Regions from separate parts of the Homo sapiens genome. Here regions 2, 3, 4 and 5 are each linked to region 1. The links come from fine-mapping of genetic effects on gene expression. A gene starts in region 1. Each other region holds a variant in brackets. All regions are shown on one strand. Distances are between the middles of the regions.

Region 1 (5,105 bases):
CATTGTTCCTGGCCCGGACTTCAATCTGGCCTCCCACATTATTCCTGATACCGCACCTGACCCCCATGACTGTATCTCTCTGATCTACCTGATATTCACCCCATTTCCCCATATTTCCTTCTTTACTGTTCCTCACCCTGATCACGCTTGATTTATTGATGGCAGTTCCACCAGGCCTAATCGCCACATACCAGCAAAGGCAGGCTATGCTATAGTACAAGCCACTAGCCCGCCTCTCAGAACCTCTCATTTCCTTTCCATCGTGGAAATCTGTCCTCAAGGAAATAACTTCTCAGTGTTCCATCTGCTATTCTACTACTCCTCAAGGATTATTCAGGCCCCCTCCCTTCCCTACACATCAAGCTCGAGGATTTGCCCCCACCCAGGACTGGCAAATTAGCTTTACTCAACATGCCCGAGTCAGGAAACTAAAATACCTCTTAGTCCAAATAGACACTTCCACTGAATAAGTAAAGGCCTTTCCTACAGCGTCTGAGAAGGCCACCACAGTCATTTCTTTCCTTCTGTCAGACATAATTCCTCAGTTTAGCCTTCCACCTCTATACAGTCTGATAACAGACCAGCCTTTATTAGTCAAATCAGCCAAGCAGTTTTTCAGGCTCTTAGTAGGTGTCAGTGAAACCTTTATATCCCTTACAGGCCTCCGTCTTCAAGAAAAGTAGAACGGACTAAAGGTCTTTTAAAAAGACAGCTCACCAAGCTCAGCCACCAACTTAAAAAGGACTGGACAATACTTTTACCACTTTCGCTTCTCAGAATTCAGGCCTGTCCTCAGAATGCTACAAGGTACATCCCATTTAAGCTCCTGTATAGACGCTCCTTTTTATTAGGCCCCAGTCTCATTTGACACCAGACCAACTTAGACTGTGCCCCAAAAAACTTGTCATCCCTATCTTTTGTAGTCATACTCCTATTCACCATTCTCAACTACTCATACATGCCCTGCTCTTGTTTACACTGCCGGTTTACACTGTTTCTCCAAGCCATCACAGCTGATATCTCCTGGTGCTATCCCCAAACTGCCACTCTAAACTCTTGAAGTAAATAAATAATCTTTGCTGGCAGGACTATGCTGAATCTCCTTAGGCACTCTCTAATCAGATGTCCTATGTCCTCCCAATTCTTAGACCTTTTATACCTGTTTTTCTCCTTCTCTTATTCCATTTAGTTTCTCAATTCATCCAAAACCGTATCCAGGCCGTCACCAATCATTCTATACGACAAATGTTTCTTCTTACATCCCCACAATATCACCCCTTACCACAAGACCTCCCTTCAGCTTAATCTCTCCCACTGTAGGTTCCCACGCCACCCCTAATCCCACTTGAAGCAGCCCTGAGAAACATCACCCATTCTCTCTCCATACCACCCCCCAAAAATTTTCGCCGCCTCAACACTTCAACACTATTTTGTTTTGTCTTATTAATATAAGAAGGCAGGAATGTCACGCCTCTGAGCCCAGGCCAGGCCATCGCATCCCGTGACTTGCATGTATACATCCAGATGGCCTAAAGTAACTGAAGATCCACAAAAGAAGTACAAACAGCCTTAACTGATGACATTCAACCACTGTGATTTGTTCCTGCCCCACCCTAACTGATCAATGTACTTTGTAATCTCCCCCACCCTTAAGAAGGTTCTTTGTAATTCTCCCCACCCTTGAGAATGTACTTTGTGAGATCCACCCCTGCCCACCAGAGAACAACCCCCTTTGACTAATTTTCCATTACCTTCCCAAATCCTATAAAACAGCCCCACCCCTATCTCCCTTCGCTGACTCTTTTCGGACTTAGCCCACCTGCACCCATGTGAAATAAACAGCTTTATTGCTCACATAAAGCCTGTTTGGTGGTCTCTTCACACGGACGCGCATGAAACTAACAATGTATTGGGGAGAGAAACACACATCTGCAAATATCATTGCTGAAAAGAAATCATTGCATTAAGTGCTATAGTTAAAGCGTATAAACCCAACACTGAACACAAAGGAGGGAAGGACTGGGTCTGACCTGGAGAGCAGCAGAGGAGAAAGTGCGAAATGAAAGGTACCCAGCAACAGACAAAGGGTCACACTTGGCCCCAGACATAGTGCTTCTTCCTCAAGTGCGAAGGGAGTATTGCAAACACCAGATATGCAGTGTTATCTGTATTTGGAAATTGTTTATATTCAGGCCATTCACTTCATTCAGTCTGGCAATTTCATTCAATTAATCTCATTCATTTCTTAATTAATCTCATTCATTATTCTCTGTAAACTCCACGAGAGCGGAGACTTTGTGTCTTCTTCATCGGTAGATCCCCCATGCCTACTGGCACTAGTAGTTGCCCTAAATTCACTTATCAAAGGCAGCAAGAATAACTGGGACTCTTCTCTCTTGCTTTTCACGATTTCCAGCAGGGCACAAAGGCCTACAGTCCCCACCTGAAAAAAACAGACTTGACTGGAGGCAGCGCCTCTTCTTCCAAATACAGCCCCAGCTGACGCAGATTAGCACAACCGCCTAAGCGGCGGAACTCTGGAGAGTGCGGAACCTAGGATCCTAGGAAACTGAAGGCAACGGAACCTGGGGGCGATGGAATCCGGGAGCGGTGGAACCCGGAGCCTGTAGAACTTGAATCTAGAGGAACCTGACAGCGGCGCCGAGGGGGCCACCCGGACTCTGTTTGGAACGGAAGCACAGTGTCCGCCGCTTCCTGGTTGCGGGTCAGCGCCCAGGTCCTGGGCTGGCCGCCGGGATGTTGCCCTACACAGTGAACTTCAAGGTGTCGGCGCGCACCCTCACGGGGGCCCTCAACGCCCACAACAAGGCGGCGGTGGACTGGTGAGGACGCCGAGCTTCCAGGTCGCCAGGATCGGCCAGGAATGTGTGAGGGGGAAGGGGGAAGGACAAGAGGTTTCACCCCCTGGTTAGTTTGGCCTCGCTAAGGCAGGGAGCCGCCCTCACGCAATGAGCTTGCTTTCAGTTGGTGGATTTTTGTTGTTACAAAAGTGATAATAGCCCCGTGTGGGAAATTCCCCCATGCAAATACATTTCCCCTCTTTCTCGCGTATTTCTCTGCTGTTTTCTCTGCACCTCGCCCTTTTGCCGTTCCATTCCTCTCTCTTTTCCTCTCCTCCAGCTTCCAGGCTTCTCTCTCTCCACCATTAATTCCCTGTGCACTTTCTCTTTCCCATCCTGTCTTTTCTTTTTCGTTGTCTTGTATTCCTGTTGTCTTTCAACAATGTGCCAGACCCTGTGCTAGGCGCCTGTTCTTTCACCTGTCCTTTTCACCTCTTTTCGGGCTCCTCCTGTGTAGAACATTCCTGCCTTCAACAGGTCGTCTTTATTACTCTCTCCTTTCACTATAAATTACTACTGCAGCTCTGAAAACTACTCATTAGACAAATGTAAAGCAAAATTCTGTGGCTGTGGGATGTTGTTAGGAGGACTGAAACGTCTTGTGCAGTGTTTGTCGTTTTATTTAGTTGGAAGGACTAGGATTAGTCGCAGTATCCCCAGGCACATTGTGGATACTAAGGATTAGAAATCGGATAAGCGAAAGACGTATGCCTACAAGAACAGTCAGAGGGCACAAGTTCCTTTTTATGTCCTCGGGTCTCTATTTTCATATCTTTTAGAACTTTTTTTATCCGAATGAAAAGTGAATTTCAACAAGCATTTTAAGCTTAGCCAGATCTTTTATTTAAGTGGGATAATGATAAATACTGGCCTTTGGGTTTAAATGATTTTATTAATGGTGGTACATATGAATTAGACTTATCATTTATTTAGGCTTGGCAAGAAAGAAGTCGTCCTGCTTTGTTCTGTACTTAAACTTTAACATTACTGTTTTGCTAGGGGCTGGCAAGGTTTAATTGCTTATGGATGTCATTCACTTGTGGTAGTGATTGATTCCATTACTGCCCAAACTCTTCAAGTTTTAGAAAAGCATAAAGCTGATGTTGTAAAGGTAAGTAAAATCCCACTTTGACGCTAACATGTTGTCTAGTCTAAAGTTTAATACTGTGTATCACTAAGCTCTCATTAAGTCTTACGTGTAAGTGTTGAATAGCTTTTAAATATAACAACCTATTTGGGGTAGCCTAGAATTTTCATATATATGACTTAATGTCAATACAGGGTGAGTTATTAAATGCTAGTTGTTAGATCATTTTAAGGCAGATGAAAGTTCTACCATTTACAAGACCACTCAGTCATTCCTTAGTTTTGAGCACTTACCATATGCTATGGATATGGAGATGAAAGCCCTCAGATAATTCTCCATCTTATAAGGAAGACTCACAGCGTGATAGTGTGATAAGTGAGACTTGCGTAACACGCTGTGAGAAAACAGAGGAGCTGCATATTGCCTGGTTGTGAGGAGAGTCACAGAAGTCTACAGTTTCAAGACTAGTAGACAGTAGTTAGCCAAGTAAAAAATTGACAAGGAGCATTGCAGGGAAAAGCAAGAATATACACAGAAGTAAGTAGCGTGCCATAAAGATGGCTAAAGATGGGACACTTGTAGGAGTGATGAAATAAGAGGCAGCCAGAGAGATTCAGCTGTCTGTCCTGAAGTTTTGTAAGATTACGAAGGAGTTTGGATTTTTTTTTTTTTTAGACAGAATCTCACTCTGTCGCCCAGGCTGGAGTGCAGTGGCATGATCTCGGCTCACTGTAAGCTCCACATCCTGGGTTCACGCCATTCTCCTGCCTCAGCCTCCTGAGTAGCTGGGACTACAGGCACCCACCACCATGCCCAGCTAATTTTTTGTATTTTTAGTAGAGACCGGGTTTCACCATGTTAGCCAGGATGGTCTCGAGCTCCTGACCTCGTGATCCACCCGCCTTGGCCTCCCAAAGTGCTGGGATTACAGGTGTGAGTCACCGCGCCCAGCAGGAATTTGGATTTTTGAGTAGGAGATTGATGTGACCATATTCGCGTCTTAGAAAAACTCTGGCAGCAGTGGAGGATCTGCTGAAGAAATGCAAGACTGGAGGCAGTAAGATCATTTAGGAGATTTCTGCAGTAATTTTGGTGGGAAATTCTAAGGGCCTAAAATAAAGCTGGGGCATGGAGAAGTCATGTTTAAGAGCAGCAAA
Region 2 (5,105 bases), 38 kb after region 1:
TTAATGCGTCTGTACTTTGGGCAAGTTAATTAATTATGAGTATCACTCTAGGGGAAAAAAAAACATCTTTATCATATGTTTCACTATCCCAAAGCTTGCTGCAGGAGGCAGAAAGTAAATCTGAACTTAGTCAGAACATCTCTGCCCGGGAACATTTTGTATTTACCGATATTGATGGCCAAGTGTATCATCTCACTGTTGAAGGAAACTCAGTAAAAGACAGTGCTCGGATTCCACCAGATGTGAGTACAACCTTGATTAAATCTTCATCAAGAAGATTTTGTTTTGTTGGTTCCATATCCAGTGAAGGCATAGTTAAGTTGGAAACTTCAGAAAAGCCTAATGTAAATAAACTTTATTTAAGGAGATATTATCGATTAAACTTGTTCCATACTGCTAGAGAATAACGCTGTAACTATTTTGATTAAATGTTTACTGTGTGCTACTCATTTTTATCCCTGTAATAATCCATGAGGAGTTATCTCCATTTTACCCATAACAAAACTGTGGGAGAATAAGTAACTTTCCCAAAGTTATCCAGCTTACTCATATGGCAGAGCAGTGTTTTAAACTCAGGCCTGTCTGACTTCAGTATCTGTCTTCTTTCCATTTCAGGCATTACCCTGAAGGATTTGACTTACAATCTAGTATTATTTTTGGATAATAGTAATCAGGTTGTAAGTGTAATAGTATTATTAACATTTACTAACTTACATATATTCTTATGGCCTTGTGGAATCTGTAACTAAAGTTTTGCCATTAATCATTTGTGTCAGCATGCATCTCATAGATAGTTTTTAATAGATGGATCATGAAAATGTTTATGTTAATTAATGCAGGCTATTATAATGGTTAAATGAAGGCATGAGGGGATTTTTTAAAATAGGTATATTTATTTTAAATTGCTATCTAAAAATGGAATGCTCTAGTAGAATGCCAACCCCCATAATTTTATAGGTGGCTTTGGGGTCTCATAAAGTTACAATCTAGATGTTGGCTGTGGCTACAGTCTTTTGAAGTGTAATGGGACAGAAGGATCTATTTCCAAGTTGGCTGCCTCACAGGCTATTGCACATTAATGCTGGCTGTTGACGAGGGACCTTAGTTCTTCATGTCGATCTTTCCATAAGGCTGCTTGAGTGTCCTCACGACATGACAACTGGCCTCCCCTAGAGTAAGTGATCTGATAAAGCAAGAAGGAAGTTGCAGAGTCTATTATGACCTGGTTTCAGAAGTCTCTTCAAAGGCAACTTCTTAATTAAACATTCTATTTTATGGCTAGGAAAGTAGATATCTTAAAATGTTGCTTCATATTATATACAGAATTTCATTTCTTTAATATTTTTTTTTATTAATGGACTTTATTATAATATTGATTTTTAAATCCAGTTTTTGTTTTGTTTCTTGACTATTACCAGAGTTTTTACGGTATTCAGTGTGTGTGCTAGTCCACTAATGGTCAATTATTCAAACCACTAGAGTTTTCTTACTTTTTACCATGGATACCATTTGAATTTTTATGTTGTACAATAAATGCAAAAATAAAATTTCTTTTAATAAATAGAGAAGTAATTGAGCAGTAATATTATTTAATAGCTAACATGTATTGACTATTTACTGCATGGCAGGCATTGCTTTAAGGCCTTTGCCTTTATAAATTTATTAATACTAGCAACAACTCAAGTTTCATGAACTTACCCTACTTTATGGACAATAAATCCAAGACAGAAAGGTTAAGTAAACATGCCTCAAATCACATACCAGTTTCAAGCTGGGATTCAAGCCCAGGCAGTGTGACTGCAGAGCCCAGGCTGCTGAGCCCTCCATGATACCACCTCTGAGCATCTATTAGAACTGCAAGTTCCTTTCTTCCTCCAAGTTAGATTGACTACAGCAGCATTTCATTCTTATGTTGTGCTTCTATATGTAACTTCTGAGCAAAGCTTTCTGTGAATTTAAACTGCATATGCCTTTAGTAAACAGCATCTCTTCACCTTCATGATTCCACAATGTTCCAAAACGTGTCAGTGAAGCTCTGGATCCTTTTTTCAATAGAAAAATCACGGCACAATTAGTTATAAAAGAGCTTTAAGTTTCCCTTGGAATGGATTTAGTTATCCTTTTGCAGTGAGAGATAAGTTTGAGTTGGCTCTCTGGAAAACCTTCCCTTTACTTCTCTGTTTTTCTTACTTTAATTTCCCCCTTTTTTTTTTGAGGTATTTGTTCCTCAAAAGACATCCCCTCTCTTTAAATCTAGTTCCAGTAACTACTTAATGTCTATGAAGTTGAAATCTCCTATTTCTTCATAGTTGAAATTGATAGGCAATGTAGCTCTTTGTTAGTGTCTAAAGTCTGTTTTAGGATTTGATGACTAAAAGCATACTAAAGCACAGCCCTTTAAATTAAGTTTTATTAAAATATTTATTATAATGTCTTATACAGCATAGTGAAATTTATATTTGTTTGTTGCTGTTGTTTTCTAGGGAAGTATGGGTAGTATTACCTGCATCGCTTGGAAAGGTGATACATTAGTGCTTGGAGATATGGATGGAAATTTAAATTTCTGGGACTTGAAAGGCAGAGTATCCAGGTATAAGCCAAGAATGAAATCTTGTTATTTCATTAAAAAAAAGAAATGAAATC[T/TTTTTGTTTTG]TTTTGTTTTGTTTTGTTGAGATGGTGTCTTGCTCTGTCGCCCAGGCTGGAGTGCAGTGGTGCAATCTCGGCTCACTGCAAGCTCTGACTCCCGGGTTCATGCCATTCTCCTGCCTCAGCCACCCGAGTAGCTGGGACTACAGGCACCCACCACCACGCCCGGCTAATTTTTTTGTATTTTTTTAGTAGAGACGGGATTTCACCATGTTAGCCAGGATGGTCTCGATCTCCTGACCTCGTGATCCGCCCACCTCGGCCTCCCAAAGTGCTGGGATTACAGGCAGGAGCCAGCACACCCGGCCAAAAAATGACATCTTGATATGGTTCCATTAGAGGCTTGTGACTTGGCAAGAAGGATCAGTAAACTCGTGGAGGTGTAGCTTGGACCCTTGGGTCCCTTCACCTAAACTTGGGAGGATGGGCCTTGAGCCAAGCATTCTTAGGAGATAGTTATCTGCAAGTGGCCCCTGCAGAAGTCTTAGCTGACCTTAAAGGGCAGGCCCTTTCTGTCAGATGTGGCCCCCAGTCCCAGCAAGTAAAGGGTTCTCCCATCATCAGACCTGTTAGAAATGGAAATAGTGAGAGATGTTAGACATAGCTTCTGGTGACCAGATCTCACTCTACATTGTATTGATGTTTTTGTTTCTTTGTCTTCAGAGGAATACCCACACACCGAAGTTGGGTGAGGAAGATTCGTTTTGCTCCTGGTAAAGGAAATCAAAAATTAATAGCAATGTACAATGATGGAGCTGAAGTGTGGGATACTAAAGAGGTAGGCCCTCTCCATGAGGATAAAACGTAAATAAATTGTTAGCCATAGGAACTGTGCTTTGTTAAAAAACTTCTTTCTGATTTAGAAATGAAAAGTACTTAATGAGTTCGTCAAGTTTCCCATAACAAATTATTTTCTTTACTTTACAGTATTTGTGTTCTAAAGGTAACAACTCAAGATTTATTTATTTATTTATTTATTTATTTTTATTTTTTATTTTGATATGGAGTTTCACTCTTGTCGCCCAGGCTGGAGTGCAATGGCGCGATCTCGACTTATTGCAGCCTCCACCTCCTGGGTTCAAGTGACTCTCCTGCCTCAGCCTCCCTAGTAGCTGGGATTATAGGCATGTGCCACCACGCCCGGCTAATGTTTTGTATTTTTAGTAGAGACAGGGTTTCGCCATGTTGGGCAGGCTGGTCTCAAACTCCTGACCTGAGGTGATCTGCCCGCCTCAGCCTCCTAAAGTCCTGGGATTATAGGCGTCAGCCACCGCGCCCAGCCGATTTATTTATTTTTTAATATTATCACTGTCTCTGAGACCTTTAAAATGCTGCCTATTTGTGGAAGATAGATTGCCAGAGGCTGTTCAGTTCTAAACTTGAACTGGGCCTTTGCCACAGACTGTCTTCCTTGACCATTTAATCTAGAATAATAAAGATCTTCCTTTTCTGTCTGGAAGTGATGCCCAAATTCACTCTTGAAGGTTCAGATGGTGAGCAGTTTAAGAAGTGGCAGAAATGTGACCTTTCGTATATTGGATGTGGACTGGTGTACGTCAGATAAAGTGATCTTGGCCTCAGATGATGGGTGCATCAGAGTCCTAGAGATGTCTATGAAGTCTGCGTGCTTTAGAATGGATGAACAAGAGTTAACCGGTATGGAATCCTAATGATAGGGGGCTTTGAAACCTGTCTTTACTTTGCCACAAGCTCTTGTATTTTGGGGAGAGAGCTGCTGCTTCTGTTTCATTTCAGTCTTATTTTCTTAGAATCTGAGTTTAAGAAAATATATTAACTTGAAGCTTGAGTGTTTTTACTGCTGAGATGCTGCAATCTTTGTAACTATAGATGTCAATCATTCTCAATTCAGGTTTTTTAAGTGCCCCTTTTGACTCTTTTCTTTGGTTTGTTAACAAGATAAAAGATGTTTATGTTTATAAAAATGGCTTACTCAGAATTTAGGCAAACTCATCAGAGGACATAAATCTAGTGATAAGGCTGCTGGCTTTTTAATAATGGCCTTATGTCTTTTGCAACCATATATCATTGAAAAGTCACTTTAGAAAGTGTTCTGAGTATTATGAATTTTGATGCCAATCTGTGACTAGTAAAATGACCAGTCAAGCAAATTAGCAGATTGCAGTATCTTGCTCTGTTTTGTATGGTTGTTTTGACATTGCTTTTTACCAGAATAAAAAGCATTTTAGTAGAATATACTCCATATATGACTTCTAAAAAAAAAAAGAATGGGACAATTGTGAATGCATCCATTTATCAGTTTAAAAGGCAGCTTTTGGCTGATGCAATACAGTGTTCATCCTTGGAAGATACTTGATCCTACTTGGAGTGGAGGAGGGAACTTCTTGCCTGAGTATTCTCCCAGCAAAACTTTGGTGCACACTCTAGGCTGATATGTAGAAAATTTCATGAGACTTTTCTGAACCTTTGTAGAGTCAATATTTGGCACT
Region 3 (5,105 bases), 73 kb after region 1:
CCGCATATTCTCACTCATAGGTGGGAATTGAACAATGAGATCACATGGACACAAGAAGGGGAATATCACACTCTGGGGACTGTGGTGGGGTGGGGGGAGGGGGGAGGGATAGCATTGGGAGATATACCTAATGCTAGATGACGAGTTAGTGGGTGCAGCGCACCAGCATGGCACATGTATACATATGTAACTAACCTGCACAATCTGCACATGTACCCTAAAACTTAAAGTATAATTAAAAAAAAAAAAGAGGCTCTGATGGGCTGCTTCAGAAAGACAGGATTTGAACAAATCGTTGAGAATTTAAGAACAGATAAAAAGACAATCCTCAGTAATCACTGCCTTAAAAATGTAACCAGATTTTGGGAGGCTGAGGCGGGCAGATCACAAGGTCAAGAGATCGAGACCATCCTGGCCAACATGGTGAAACCCTGTCTCTACTGAAAATAGAAAAACTTCGCTGGGTGTGGTGGCATGTGCCTACAGTCCCAGCTACTCGGGAGGCTGAGGCAGGAAAATCGCTTGAACCCAGGAGGCAGAGGTTGCAGTGAGCCTAGATCGTACCACTGCAGTCCAGCCTGGCTCATAGCGAGACTCTGTCTCAAAAACCAAAACCAAAACAAAATGTAACCAGAGGGGTCAATTTTCGCTTTGCAGTTAGGGTATTTTTTGTTTTGTTTTGTTTTTGTTTTTGTTTTCAGACGGAGCTCTCGCTCTGTAGCCAGGCTGGAGTGCGGTGGCGCTATTTGGCTCACTGCAACCTCTGCCTCCCAGGTTCAAGAGATTCTCCTGCCTCAGCCTCCCGAGTAGCTGGGACTACAGGGGCATGCCACCATGCCCAGCTAATTTTTTTGTATTTTCAGTAGAGACAGGGTTTCACCATGTTGGCCAGGATGGTCTCGATCTCTTGACCTCGTGATCTGCCCGCCTTGGCCTCCCAAAGCGCTGGGATTACAGGCGTGAGCCACCACTTGAAGCAAGGCAGCCGACGTGAAAGCAGAGCGAGAAAAGCTACACACGATGCGGCCTCTGCTGTTCCTGTTCCTGTTCCTGGTCAGTGATGTTGCAGGTTTAGGGTCAGCAAACCACAGCCGGCAGCCCGAATCCCTGCCTCTTTCTAGAAATATGGTGTTACTGCAACAAAACTGTGCCCACCTGTTCATTGTCTGACTGTTTTCAATGATAGGGTTGAAAAGCTAGAAGGGAATCAAGTGGCCTGAAAAGCCTAAAATACTTACTCTCTGGGCCTTTACAGAAAAATAGTTCAATAACTCCTTCTCTAGGGTCGAAATGCTTCCTGGTGATGAAATCTCAGCTGTCTAACTGCCGTATTGTTTACAGACTGGTATGAGGTCCTTTGTAATTTTTCTGCAGCTAGGTGCATTAGAACCTACCTCCTTAGAAGGTTGTTGTTATAAGCTCCGTCCCATCTGGCTTCTTCATAGGCCCATGTTGCCATGGGAATGGGCCCAGGAGACTCCAAGGTTTATCCGCCAGGCTGACCTTAGTCTTATTGAGAGGTGACATCGTGCTGGCAGTCCTCAGAGCCCTCGCTCGCTCTCGGCGCCTCCTCTGCCTGGGCTCCCACTTTGGCGGCACTTGAGGAGCCCTTCAGCCCACCGCTGCACTGTGGGAGCCCCTTTCTTGGCTGGCCAAGGCCGGAGCCGGCTCCCTCAGCTTGCAGGGAGGTGTGGAGGGAGAGGCGCGAGCGGGAACCGAGGCTGCGCGCGGCGCTTGCGGGCCAGCTGAAGTTCCGGGTGGGCGTGGGCTTGGCGGGCCCCGCACTTGGAGCAGCCGGCCGGCCCTGCCGGCCCCGGGCAATGAGGGGCTTAGCACCCGGGCCAGCGGCTGCGGAGGGTGTACTGGGTCCCCCAGCAGTGCCAGCCCATCGGCGCTGAGCTCGATTTCTCGCCAGGCCTTAGCTGCCTTCCCACGGGGCAGGGCTCGGGACCTGCAGCCGGCCATGCCTGAGTCTCCCACCCCCTCCATGGGCTCCTATGCGGCCGGAGCCTCCCAGATGAGCGCCGCCCCCTGCTCCAAGGCGCCCAGTCCCATCGACCACCCAAGGGCTGAGGAGTGCGGGCGCACGGCACGGGACTGGCAGGCAGCTCCACCTGCAGCCCCTTTGCGGGATCCACTGGGTGAAGCCAGCTGCGCTCCTGAGTCTGGTGGGGACGTGGAGAACCTTTATGTCTAGCCCAGGGATTGTAAATACACCAGCAGGCACTCTATCTAGCTCAAGGTTTGTAAACACACCAATCAGCACCCTGTGTCTAGCTCAGGTTTGTGAATGCACCAATCGACACTCTGTATCTAGCTACTCTGGTGGGGACTTGGACAACCTTTGTGTCCACACTCTGTATCTAGTTAATCTAGTGGGGTCGTGAAGAACCTTTGTGTCTAGCTCAGGGATTGTAAACGCACCAGTCGGCGCCAAGTCAAAATAGACCACTCGGCTCTACCAATCAGCAAAATGTGGGTGGGGCCAGATAAGAGAATAAAAAGCAGGCTGCCCGAGCCAGCAGTGGCAACCCGCTGGGGTCCCCTTCCACACTGTGGAAGCTTTGTTCTTTTGCTCTTTGCAATAAATCTTGTTACTGCTCACTCTTTGGGTCCACTCTGCTTTTATGAGCTGTAACACACACCGCGAAGGTCTGCAGCTTCACTCCTGAGCCAGGGAGACCACGAACCCACCAGAAGGAAGAAACTCTGAACACATCCAAACATCAGAAGGAACAAACTGCAGACGCGCCAACTTAAGAGCTGTAACACTCACGGCGAGGGTCCGCAGCTTCATTCTTCAAGTCAGTGAGACCAAGAACCCACCAATTCCGGACACATTATTGTTGATAAATCTGAGGTCAAAGGCATCAACAGATGATTGAAAAGTTTAACTCCAAGTGCCGTT[T/C]CATTATCAAATATTTTTAAGCAAATCTCCATTTTACTCCAGATACTTCTGAACACGTTCTGCTATGAGATCTTCACTTTATTCCAATCTTTTGCATTCTACCATCATTTTTAAGCCAAAATACTTCAGGCAGGCTAGAAGATGAAAAAATATTTATGTCCCAAATAAGTGGCATGCACTACTGTCGTAGAAGAGAATCCATGGGGTGCAGGGACCCACGTACCTCCCTCTTGGGAAGTGCATCTCAGGTCAGGGACTCCTACAGGGCCCAATGACTGGGGCTTCAAATAATCCCACAGAGCTGAGCCAGGAAGTAGAACAATAATTAGAAGTGAAAAATGGACAAGTCTGCAATATAATCCAATGGAGACAATTCAAGGAGGAAATTGGCAAACCACTATGTTTGCACAGGTACGTTATGGAAGGAAAGGAGGGAATCCTAAGAAACAAGAGATTTCTTAAGGCTGATTTGTGCAGACATGATGCAGATCATTTTCTTAAGAACTATCTGCCCAACAACACAATTCAGTCCTCCAGGTTTTTACTTCCCAGTGTTCTTCAAAAATGTGTATCAATGAGGAATTTATTTGAAGAACAGCTCCTTGTTTGAAGTTGCTGATCTTTGCCTAGAATAGGCCAAGGAAAATATACCTCATCCCGTTAAGGAGTTAGAAAGCTGTTCCAGCAGATCATATTGTAGCAAACCTGACATAAGTTCATTTAAATGCTAAGGATCTGATCTGAGCTTGTGTTTCTGGAATTGCCAATGCACATTTCAGAGGGCCTCAGTAACTGTCAGCCAAGCCTTGGTTTTGCTTTTTGCCTTTGGCAAACCCACTCAAGAATGGTTCTAAACACAAGGACCAGAGATGTGGAACAGGGTGAAAGCAGCGGCGCTGGGAACACCTGCTTCCCGGCAATCTGGCTGCCTGGCCTTGGACAAGTTATCACCTGAGCCTCACTTGTAAAATGGTGATAATAGGGTCTCCCGATAATAGGGTCTCCCTCCAGGGGTGGCTGAGAGTCAGAGAAGGGAGCTGCGAGGGCTTCTCAAGATCAAGGATCTGTCAGCTTAGCTGCTCCTGGGAAGGAGGCTGAGACTCACATTGTCAGCTTTCACTCACTAAAGAGAGTCTTGCTTGAGGGGCTTGGACAAACAGGAGCTGGGATTAGAGTGGGTGGGACTGGGAAGGAGAGAGAGAAAAAAGGAAAGAAGCAAAGATTGACTCTCCAAATCTCTAAAATCACCCACCCTACAAGTGCAGAAAGCTTGTTCTGAGCAGAAAGGACTTGATCCGGAGCCAGGTAGATCACCTTCTCTCCTGGAGGCAGCTCTGGAAAAAGGCTCTTAGGCTTCTGGCAGTTCCTCCCCTGAGAATCTCACCCTCTGCAGGTCTCCTCCTGCCTGGGAAACAAAGTCTCTCCAGTCCTTTTGCTGCCTTATGCCCCTGATCCCTGCACCCCCGGACCGGACCCCCAGCCCCATCCCATCCATGGGAACCACCAAGCTCCAAGTACTTATTGAGCCACCACCTTCTTCCAGGGACTCACCACCCCTGTCGGGGGATGCAGGGTTGCAGTGGAGAGCAGCCAGCTGGGGTCATTGGGAATACCAGAGTTGGGGCTTGGATGGAAACTGAGTGGGGAGGGCAGCAGTTCTGGGGAGGTGGGAGGAGATGTAGGTAAGTGAAGGGGGCCAGGGAGCAGCCCTGCAGGTAGGGGGCCGGCCAGAGGCTGGCAGCAGGAGAGGAGACCCCTGCAGGCAGTATGGACAGTGGGGCAGAAGTGAGCAGGCGGGAGGGCACATGCCACTTGAGGGCCCGGTGTGAGCTCAGCGAGGGGATCCAGCCAGGGTCCCTCCTGCAGAGGAACCAGCCTCAGTGTGGTCCGAAGAGCCCCAGGAGCTCAAGAAGGTGGCAAAGCCATGGCAGGCAGAGGGAAACTCAGGGAGGGGAAAGAAAAGATCGGAACTGAGGGGAGTCCTGCAGCAGCTACAGCAGGGAAGTGGTTCTGCAGCACCGTTTCCAGATTGCAGGGCTCGTTTAGAACCGTCTCAGCCTGCTGGGGTGGGAGACTGGAGAGGAGCTGCCCACAGCCTCCAGGGTGTTGTCAGAGCTTGGTGCTTGCCCTGCTCTGTCGGCAATCAGCACGGTTGCTGTGATGACACTGAGCTGCCTTGGAAGGAGATGCACAGGTA
Region 4 (5,105 bases), 24 kb before region 1:
AGTATCCAAGAGTATCCTTATAATAAAATTACATCTACTCATTTCCATTTGGATATGCCCTCTTGAGTGGAAGAAGGGGATGGAGTACAGTTGGCACACACCTCAGTCACCTAACTACCAAATTATGGTTGTTAAATATGGCTGTAATAAAAAAATTTCAAGCTTTTCTTGAAATCTAGTTATACCCATGGGGATGTATTTAACACGTGATACCACTTGCCTCTTCTTTTGACAGAAAGAATAACTGGGCTCAGTAATGCACCTAGAGACTCAGATTCCAGACCTGCCCACTTGCTTTACTATCCAAAACAACCATGACACATGACTTCTCTGGCGGGGTGTTGGCCAAGACAAACTGAACTATAGAAGATCCTTGACTTGCCAACGTTCAAATGATGAACTTTCAAAAATAGCGAAACTGGCTGCAGAGCAAAAGCTTTTCAGCTCTGCACAACACCAACAGATGGCGCTAAGTGTCACCCTTGTGGAGAGCAGAGGGACCTCGGAAGGGCCTTTGGAAATCTAATCTGGTTTTGAGTTCTTGGTGGGAAAATGCACCTTTAAGTTGGGGGAGTTTGAAGACGTTGCCAAGACACGTGCTGCAGCATTTGATCTTTTCTGCCGCACTGGCTTCTGCAATTAACATGCTTTCACCAGTGAAACTCAGGTTGCGGGGAGAGCATTCTTCCAGGTTCATGCCTGTTGTCATGGAGTAATTATAATTCATGTCTCCGTTCACAGTGTCCTGGTTTGTAGAATAAAATATCTGGTCCACCCACCCAGTGGGATCTTTGAGAATCCATTCATTTTAGAGTCAGCATCTGTGGCTGGTTCCAAGACTGTAATTTGCTTCCTTGGCAAATGCCACACTACATCAAAAGGGGGCAAAAGAGTATGATTGCTCTATTTTTACTTAGAATCCAAGTGGTAATTTATGGAATACAGGGGTTCTCAACCTCAGCACTATTGACGTTGGAGCTGGATAATTCTTTGGTGGTTGTGGGGGAGGGGCGAGGGCGGGAGTCCTGTGCTTTGCAAGATGTTTAGCAGCACCTCTGGCCTCCACTTGCTAGATGCCAGCAACACCTCCCCACTCTCTCCCAATTTGTGACAACCAAATACGTTTCCAGACATTGTCAAATGTCTTTAGGAGGCAAAACCATCCCTGTATGAGAACCACCATTTTAGTGCTTTGTACAAGTAGGATTCAGTGTACAAACCTGAGTCGATTCTACCTCGGACAGTGATGGTACCTGGAATAGCACCCAAAATCAGGGAGTGAGAAACGCTTACCTTTAGCATTTGAAAGAATGAGCTGGTGGTGATGAGCTCAAGATTTAGAGTCAGACAGGTTTAGGTTTGAATGTGGCCCTGTCACTTTGTAACTGTATAAGCTTGTGCAAGTTACTTGATTTTTTTGAACCTCAGTTTCCTCATCTATAAAATAACAGTAATACCTGCCTCTTCAGGTGGTTAACACTTAAATCAGTTCAATGATGTAAACCACTTAGTACACAGCATACACTATGTAGTGTGAGCTACTACCGTCATTATTATATGCAACATCATCTCTTCTCAGATTTCTATAATTAGCCTTGGTTATTATTTCGGTTATTTACTTCCTCATCAGAGTCTTTCTTTAGTTGTCAGCAATTTTTGAACCCTCTTTAACAATAGTCAGCACTTGTTTTTTTGCAAGAAATGATTCTAAAACAGTTTGCAAATTTCTACATAAGAAATTGATGCAATAATAACAGCAGCAGCAGTAATTTCTATAGGATTACTGAGATAGAGCTATCATCGTGGCCAGGCTTGCTTCTATGTCTAAATTCCAGACATTCTTGATCTTAAAGGGCTTCTATTACCAGAATTCAGAAGCACTGAATCAAAATTCAGAAGAGAATGTTCTAGATTAGGAATCAAAGTGCCTTGACAATGAGATTGTACAGTCTGGCTCATTTCTATGGTTCCTTGGAGATTCACCCTCTCCATGAGAAAAGAGGCCATTTGCAATTCTGCCTGATTCCAGAGCCCTTTTATTTGTTTACTGGGTACTCATGCCAGAGAAAAAAGGCAGCTTCCAGATCCATGCAAATCACATTGCATTAGTGCTTATATTTACAGATAAACAGCTCCATTAAGCACTGGAAAAGCCTTCTTATACTTGGACAACCAGGTGAAAATATATAAATTGAATTTCACACTCATGGCACAAATTCATCCTTACAATACAGTCCCCCAAAGCACTTCAAGTGATTTTGTGTGAAGAGTTTCTGAGATGAAATGGTAAGATATGACTGCTCTGAGGGAGGGGGCAATAGGGAGAGGAGTTACTTCATTAGCATTGTCAGCTTTGTCACAAGGTGACATTATGAAAGAATTTAGCCTCTTTGTAGACCATTAAGGGAATAAATACATATTGTAATCTAATTGGCAAAACTGCAAAAAGGCCCCATCTGGATAACCCACCACTTTCATTATGATGTGCTTATGAAAGATATTTGAAAGTCAAATATCTGAATTTTGAAGAAGAAGAAAAAAAAAGGTTTGGCCTACTCCTTGTTTAGAGAGAAGATATAGATAACATTCCAAACAATGGTTTGTAT[C/T]GGTGCTGCTGAGCTCAAGGCCCAGGCAATGAGGTGGGTGTGGTAAGGGTCTCCTCAGGCCGATTTAGAGCCTAGACTGAAGGTGGCTTCTAGTTACCTGGACTCAGGTATCTGTCTCTTCCCAGGGCTGCTGTCTTTCCTGCTGGGACAGGGAGAATAGAGGACAGGCAACTCTTAATAGTAAACATCCCTCAGAGATTCATTAGGAGTCTATAGCAGGGATGGCAGAGTCCATCAGAACTGAGCAGATTCTCAGCCAACTACCTGCACCCCCACCCCACACACATGGGGGGTCCATGGAGAGGATCTCTAACCTGCTGCCTGCCAGCAAGCCCTAGCATTACTCACTAGGAGATGTTAGGCAAGTTACCTTATTTTACCAAGTCTCAGTTTCCTCATCTGTAAAATGCGGATTCCTGCGCATAGTGGGCTGTGAGAATTAAATGGGATGACAAATGTGAAGCCCTGAGCACAGCACCTGGCTTATGGGAGTGTCCCTTACCCCTCCTCCTTTCTAACATAGGAGAAGGTAGAGATTCTCAATTCCTCTTTCAACAGCAATAACAATAACAGGCCACCACAGTCTACAAATTTCTGTATGTCACGGGATTCATAAGAAATTGAGAAGTACATTTCTTTCGAGGACAAACACACTCAATTTTTTTTACTGTATTTCTAGTATATATAGAGAAAAGCAAAAAATACAACTCCAAGAGACCTCGGTAGTAGTCTCTCCTCTCCCTGTAATGTGTTGTGTGACCATTGATATTCCCTTGATCAGTCTGATTCCTGGTTACCTGGACAAGGTGATCTTCACAGTGAATTCTAGCTGTGATGTTTGCTGACTGATTCTCCTACATAGTCAAGGCTCTGTAGAGTGAGCCTTTCAGGGATTGTCTGTGAACCCTTTCCTTCCTCCAGAAACATTTCCCCATCCACATGGCTATATGAGATCTCTGGCTTTCCCTGGCCAAACAGGGTTCTTCCAAGTATCTGATCCAAATGAGTGAGTTCAAGTTCTTCTTCATGAGTTGTTCTGGAATTGAGAAAGAGCTATAGGAAGCAATGAGATATAGCTGAAAACCTGCTGACAGTCACCTTGCCAGCCATCTGGTGAAAAATAGTCTGCAGCAAGAGAGAAAAAAGCCAACACTGAGAGAGAAGCAGAAAGGAGAGATGCAGGGAGAGTCTAGTCTGTACTTGACTCCCTAGTTCTGATTGTCTCACCTGTGCCCCTCTCCTTTCTGAAGTTTTCCTTTCTTGGATTCTGTGAGCCAAAGAATTCTCTTTTTGTTAAAGCTACTTTGAGTTCGTTCTCTGTCCCCTGCAACCAAAAATTCTGATTTGGAGCATCTTTTTATGTGATCTAAGCATCCCTATACTCATCTAAGATGGCATGGTTTTTAATATTTTATTAAACCTACTGTTATGCTACCCTTGAAATTCAGCTTCTGTTGCAACAAGCTTTTATCGCAAGGGAAAACAGGGAGTTCCTCCATGGTATATAATCCTGTCCTCTCCAGGTCCCACAGATATCCTCTCTGTGAGGGCCCAAAAAAGAGGAACATGCCACAGAGTAAGCCAACACCAGCCAGGGAGGATGGAGAGGCAGAGCTGGCTGGGGTCCCCCTGAATCTGCTGCTGTTAGAATTTTCTGTCAGTGTGGAGTTTATTAAGAGTGGATCTAACTTTCAGAGGAGAGTGCAAATTTTCTCTCAAGCCAGTTTTAAAACATTTAGGCAGAGTAAAAAGTCAAAAAAGACTTTAGGCTCTGAAGTCCTGCATTCTAGCCTGACACAGGAGGGTTTCCCTGGTGGCTCAGCTCTTACATGAAGCTCTGTTTTTTTGTGTGAAACATCAAAAACTCAATGTTTCTCAGAAAGTTCTGAAAAGAATCTTATTTCCCAGGCAACAGCTTTTCACTTGCTGTCTTCCCCCTGGGCCTCCACAAATTAATCATGAGTATAAATAAAAGCACTACTCAAGTCGGTGACTGCGGCCCTGCCCTGCCTGTTGGGATAGCAATGGAGAAATCAAGAACAGAGTGAGGTCCTAAGAAAAGCAGTGGAGCAACTCAAGGCTGAGTGTCCAGACTATAGCTGGGCGGCTGCAATGCTGGTCAAAAACAGGGCCTGCCAAGCTCTGATGCTGCAGGAACACATGGGAGCTTGCCTTCACAGGCAATGCCTCCTGACTTCGCAGGAGCTGGATGCTTCCTGCTTTCAGAGGAGCCCGATGCATCCTGATAGGAGGCAGATGTGCCTTTTGCATCTGATGCCATCCACTGACAAGGAGTGTGGACTGTTCACTGGCTCTTATTAAAGAATGCCTCAGACACTGCTTATACCAATATTTTACACCACAGTTCAACTTTTGAAGGGTGTATTGTTTTCAGTGTCAAAGTAGGTCAATCTGGATGCTTTAAGCTGCAGTAACAGAAAACCAACTCAAATTGATTAAACAATTTGGGGATCCATTGCTTAACAAAGAGGACATCAA
Region 5 (5,105 bases), 65 kb after region 1:
CCCAATACAGGAGCACCCAGATTCATAAAGCAAGTCCTGAGTGACCTACAAAGAGACTTAGACTCCCACACATTAATAATGGGAGACTTTAACATCCCACTGTCAACATTAGACAGATCAACGAGACAGAAAGTCAACAAGGATACCCAGGAATTGAACTCAGCTCTGCACCAAGTGGACCTAATAGACATCTACAGAACTCTCCACCCCAAATCAACAGAATATACATTTTTTTCAGCACTACACCACACCTATTCCAAAATTGACCACATACTTGGAAGTAAAGCTCTCCTCAGCAAATGTAAAAGAACAGAAATTATAACAAACTATCTCTCAGACCACAGTGCAATCAAACTAGAACTCAGGATTAAGAATCTCACTCAAAACTGCTCAACTACATGGAAACTGAACAACCTGCTCCTGAATGACTACTGGGTACATAACGAAATGAAGGCAGAAATGAAGATGTTCTTTGAAACCAACGAGAATAAAGACACAACATACCAGAATCTCTGGGACGCATTCAAAGCAGTGTGTAGAGGGAAATTTATAGCACTAAATGCCCACAAGAGAAAGCAGGAAAGATCCAAAATTGACACCCTAACATCACAATTAAAAGAACTAGAAAAGCAAGAGCAAACACATTCAAAAGCTAGCAGAAGGCAAGAAATAACTAAAATCAGAGCAGAACTGAAGGAAATAGAGACACAAAAAACCCTTCAAAAAATTAATGAATCCAGGAGCTGGTTTTTTGAAAGGATCAACAAAATTGATAGACCGCTAGCAAGACTAATAAAGAAAAAAAGAGAGAAGAATCAAATAGACGCAATAAAAAATGATAAAGGGGATATCACCACCGATCCCACAGAAATACAAACTACCATCAGAGAATACTACAAACACCTCTACGCAAATAAACTAGAAAATCTAGAAGAAATGGATAAATTCCTTGACACATAAACTCTCCCAAGACTAAACCAGGAAGAAGTTGAATCTCTGAATACACCAATAACAGGAGCTGAAATTGTGGCAATAATCAATAGCTTACCAACCAAAAAGAGTCCAGGACCAGATGGATTCACAGCCAAATTCTACCAGAGGTACAAGAAGGAACTGGTACCATTCCTTCTGAAACTATTCCAATCAACAGAAAAAGAGGGAATCCTCCCTAACTCATTTTATGAGGCCAGCATCATTCTGATACCAAAGTCGGGCAGAGACACAACCAAAAAAGAGAATTTTAGACCAATATCCTTGATGAACATTGATGCAAAAATCCTCAATAAAATACTGGCAAACCAAATCCAGCAGCACATCAAAAAGCTTATCCACCATGATCAAGTGGGCTTCATCCCTGGGATGCAAGGCTGGTTCAATATACGCAAATCAATAAATGTAATCCAGCATATAAACAGAGCCAAAGACAAAAACCACATGATTATCTCAATAGATGCAGAAAAGGCCTTTGACAAAATTCAACAACCTTTCATGCTAAAAACTCTCAATAAATTAGGTATTGATGGGACATATTTCAAAATAATAAGAGCTATCTATGACAGACCCACAGCTAATATCATACTGAATGGGCAAAAACTGGAAGCATTCCCTTTGAAAACTGGCACAAGACAGGGATGCCCTCTCTCACCACTCCTATTCAACATAGTGTTGGAAGTTCTGGCCAGGGCAATTAGGCAGGAGAAGGAAATAAAGGGTATTCAATTAGGAAAAGAGGAAGTCAAATTGTCCCTGTTTGCAGACGACATGATTGTATATCTAGAAAACCCCATTGTCTCAGCCCAAAATCTCCTTAAGCTGATAAGCAACTTCAGCAAAGTCTCAGGATACAAAATCAATGTGCAAAAATCACAAGCATTCCTATACACCAACAACAGACAAACAGAGAGCCAAATCATGAGTGAACTCCCATTCACAATTGCTTCAAAGAGAATAAAATACCTAGGAATCCAACTTACAAGGGATGTGAAGGACCTCTTCAAGAACTACAAACCGCTGCTCAAGGAAATAAAAGAGGATACAAACAAATGGAA[G/A]AACATTCCATGCTCATGGGTAGGAAGAATCAATATTGTGAAAATGGCCATACTGCCCAAGGTAATTTACAGATTCAATGCCATCCCCATCAAGCTACCAATGCCTTTCTTCACAGAATTGGAAAAAACTACTTTAAAGTTCATATGGAACCAAAAAAGAGCCTGCATCGCCAAGGCAATCCTAAGCCAAAAGAACAAAGCTGGAGGCATCACACTACCTGACTTCAAACTATATTACAAGGCTACAGTAACCAAAACAGCATGGTACTGGTACCAAAACAGAGATATAGATCAATGGAACAGAACAGAGCCCTCAGAAATAACGCCGCATATCTACAACTATCTGATCTTTGACAAACCTGAGAAAAACAAGCAATGGGGAAAGGATTCCCTATTTAATAAATGGTGCTGGGAAAACTGGCTAGCCATATGTAGAAAGCTGAAACTGGATCCCTTCCTTACACCTTATACAAAAATCAATTCAAGATGGATTAAATACTTAAATGTTAGACCTAAAACCATAAAAACCCTAGAAGAAAACCTAGGCATTACCATTCAGGACATAGGCATGGGCAAGGACTTCATGTCTAAAACACCAAAAGCAATAGCAACAAAAGACAAAATTGACAAATGGGATCTAATTAAACTAAAGAGCTTCTGCACAGCAAAAGAAACTACTATCAGAGTGAACAGGCAACCTACAAAATGGGAGAAAATTTTTGCAACCTACTCATCTGACAAAGGGCTAATATCCAGAATCTACAATGAACTCAAACAAATTTACAAGAAAAAAACAAACAACCCCATCAAAAAGTGGGTGAAGGACATGAACAGACACTTCTCAAAAGAAGACATTTATGCAGCCAAAAAACACATGAAAAAATGCTCACCATCACTGGCCATCAGAGAAATGCAAATCAAAACCACAATGAGATACCATCTCACACCGGTTAGAATGGTGATCATTAAAAAGTCAGGAAACAACAGGTGCTGGAGAGGATGTGGAGAAATAGGAACACTTTTACACTGTTGGTGGGACTGTAAACTAGTTCAACCATTGTGGAAGTCAGTGTGGCGATTCCTCAGGGATCTAGAACTAGAAATACCATTTGACCCAGCCATCCCATTACTGGGTATATACCCAAAGGACTATAAATCATGCTGCTATAAAGACACATGCACACGTATGTTTATTGCGGCATTATTCACAATAGCAAAGACTTGGAACCAACCCAAATGTCCAACAGTGATAGACTGGATTAAGAAAATGTGGCACATATACACCATGCAATACTATGCAGCCATAAAAAATGATGAGTTCATGCCCTTTGTAGGGACATGGATGAAATTGGAAACCATCATTCTCAGTAAACTATCGCAAGAACAAAAAACCAAACACCGCATATTCTCACTCATAGGTGGGAATTGAACAATGAGATCACATGGACACAGGAAGGGGAACATCACACTCTGGGGACTGTTGTGGGGTGGGGGGAGGGGGGAGGGATAGCATTGGGAGATATACCTAATGCTAGATGACGAGTTAGTGGGTGCAGCACACCAGCATGGCACATGTATACATATGTAACTAACCTGCACAATGTGCACATGTACCCTAAAACTTAAAGTATAATAATAAATAAATAAGGAAAAAAAAAGGCTGAACCCTCAAATACTATCACACTGGACGGTAAGGCTTCAACATGTGAATTACGAGACTTGCGAAGCAGAGAGAAAGAAGAAACTTTATACCAGAGTCGTGCTTTCTGAAAAATGAAAATGCTTTGGATTAAGGCCAACAAATAGGTACTAAGGCATTGCCTGATGGTGAGAGTGAAGCAGGGCCAGGCACGGCAGCTCGGTATAAACACAGTGAGCAGACAAGGCCCAGAGCCTGGGTTTGTGTCAGTCCAGCTGGCTAGTGTAGCAGTTAGGACTCCCACGGGGACACAGAGACCAAGCCTGGTCGAGACACCACTGAAAATCCCCTTCCAAACAGAACAGGTGATCTCTGGTGATATTCACAGCCACACTGCTGAAAACTGCCATACTCACCTCCATCAAGCATTGGAAATCAAGAGCTGAACAAGTATGAATTGTTTTTCACATTTAGCCTTTCTGAATATCTTTTCACGAAAGATCATTAAGAATACGTGTTGTCAACACACTAATGAGGTGGCTTCACGAGCTGAAACAAGCAGCTGAAATTGGGAATAAGACTGAGAATTACTTCAGGACAGCAGACCCTGGCCCCAGTGCCAGCCCCCACAGAAGCTGCTGGGCAAGGCCTGGGCCCTTCCCTTTGCCACAAAGCCTGGGTGGGGGTGGAGGAGCCACTCTGGAGGTGGGGCTTCTTCAGGAAGAAGGCCAGGTGGTGGGTGGTAGGTGCTTCCCCTTGACTGGTCTCTGAGCCATTTCCTACTGCTCACCGTTACCTTTTTCCTCCTCTGTTGCTAACGAAATGCTCTGCCAAATGTGGCTGGCTGCCCCACCACGGTCTTGCTCTAGGTTTAATCATTGCTTTGGACGTAGTAGCAGGACATTTTGTTCTTTCAAAAGAGATAACAGAGCAGATTCATACAAGCCTCATGTCCCTCTCACACAGGTACCCGATCAGAAAGTCTCAACATGTAGACACAATGAAATAAGAAAACAATTTCTCTCTCATCTATTTGTTTCCTGAGGCTTCCTCTTGCCTCAGGATGGTGTTAGGTTTCAGTGAATCCTGAGCTCTGTGACTACCCAGGATATTCCATTCTCAGCAACAGGATGTGATTGAAGTAAAGCATTCAGGCACAAACTTGTAACTGTGCTGCTGAAATAAAAGAGGGCCACGCAGGGAAGGCACCCAAGGGAGAATGTTCCAGGCAACGGGGCCGTTTCTCTGGGAGCCTGCATGAGATTATTTTGACTGACTCAAAATGACTTGTGAATGAAAGAACCCTTTTAATTAAAACGTAATGGCAGTTTTAATCAAGGACATGTTGCTGCCACTTTAAAAGAAGGAAGGAGGAGCTGCGCTTTTGGAAGGCACTTCTGAAAACTGCTGGAATCCAA

Which allele goes with the higher level. Alleles are on the strand shown, and positions count from the first base shown. SD is a standard deviation of normalised expression in the study named. Not every link is listed here.
With allele G in place of A in region 5, the expression in substantia nigra of the gene that starts at base 2,699 in region 1 is higher (moderate effect, 0.52 SD a copy in GTEx).

The links. PIP is the estimated chance that this variant, and not a neighbour inherited with it, causes the effect. A credible set is the group of variants that fine-mapping cannot tell apart.
Region 2: its variant is the best candidate, but not a certain one, in a credible set for the expression of WDR11 in whole blood (INTERVAL, PIP 0.77).
Region 3: its variant is the best candidate, but not a certain one, in a credible set for the expression of WDR11 in whole blood (INTERVAL, PIP 0.51).
Region 4: its variant is the best candidate, but not a certain one, in a credible set for the expression of WDR11 in whole blood (TOPMed, PIP 0.52).
Region 5: its variant is the best candidate, but not a certain one, in a credible set for the expression of WDR11 in substantia nigra (GTEx, PIP 0.56).

Annotation. Positions count from the first base shown.
Region 1 is chr10:120,848,664-120,853,768 of GRCh38, forward strand. WDR11 (WD repeat domain 11) reads left to right here and starts at 2,699. Exons shown (of 29, transcript NM_018117.12): 1 at 2,699-2,843; 2 at 3,861-3,972. The coding sequence starts at 2,758. WDR11-DT (WDR11 divergent transcript) reads right to left here and starts at 2,516. Exons shown (of 3, transcript NR_033850.1): 1 at 2,031-2,516. RefSeq lists enhancers at 2,341-2,885, 2,364-2,483, 2,644-3,113, 2,886-3,429, 3,124-3,183.
Region 2 is chr10:120,886,595-120,891,699 of GRCh38, forward strand. WDR11 (WD repeat domain 11) reads left to right here. Exons shown (of 29, transcript NM_018117.12): 16 at 95-242; 17 at 2,484-2,590; 18 at 3,301-3,415; 19 at 4,122-4,293. Among named protein-coding and RNA genes, the nearest start is that of WDR11, 38 kb to the left of the region's middle. The variant T/TTTTTGTTTTG (reference allele first, on the strand shown) is at 2,644.
Region 3 is chr10:120,922,128-120,927,232 of GRCh38, forward strand. All of the region lies in intron 2 of LOC105378519 (a long non-coding RNA gene), which reads right to left. Among named protein-coding and RNA genes, the nearest start is that of WDR11, 73 kb to the left of the region's middle. The variant T/C (reference allele first, on the strand shown) is at 2,909.
Region 4 is chr10:120,824,530-120,829,634 of GRCh38, forward strand. It overlaps LINC02930 (long intergenic non-protein coding RNA 2930), which reads left to right. Exons shown (of 5, transcript XR_002957103.2): 5 at 236-782. All of the region lies in intron 1 of WDR11-DT (WDR11 divergent transcript), which reads right to left. Among named protein-coding and RNA genes, the nearest start is that of WDR11-DT, 24 kb to the right of the region's middle. The variant C/T (reference allele first, on the strand shown) is at 2,607.
Region 5 is chr10:120,913,289-120,918,393 of GRCh38, forward strand. The region is part of intron 2 of LOC105378519 (a long non-coding RNA gene); the gene reads right to left. Among named protein-coding and RNA genes, the nearest start is that of WDR11, 64 kb to the left of the region's middle. The variant G/A (reference allele first, on the strand shown) is at 2,049.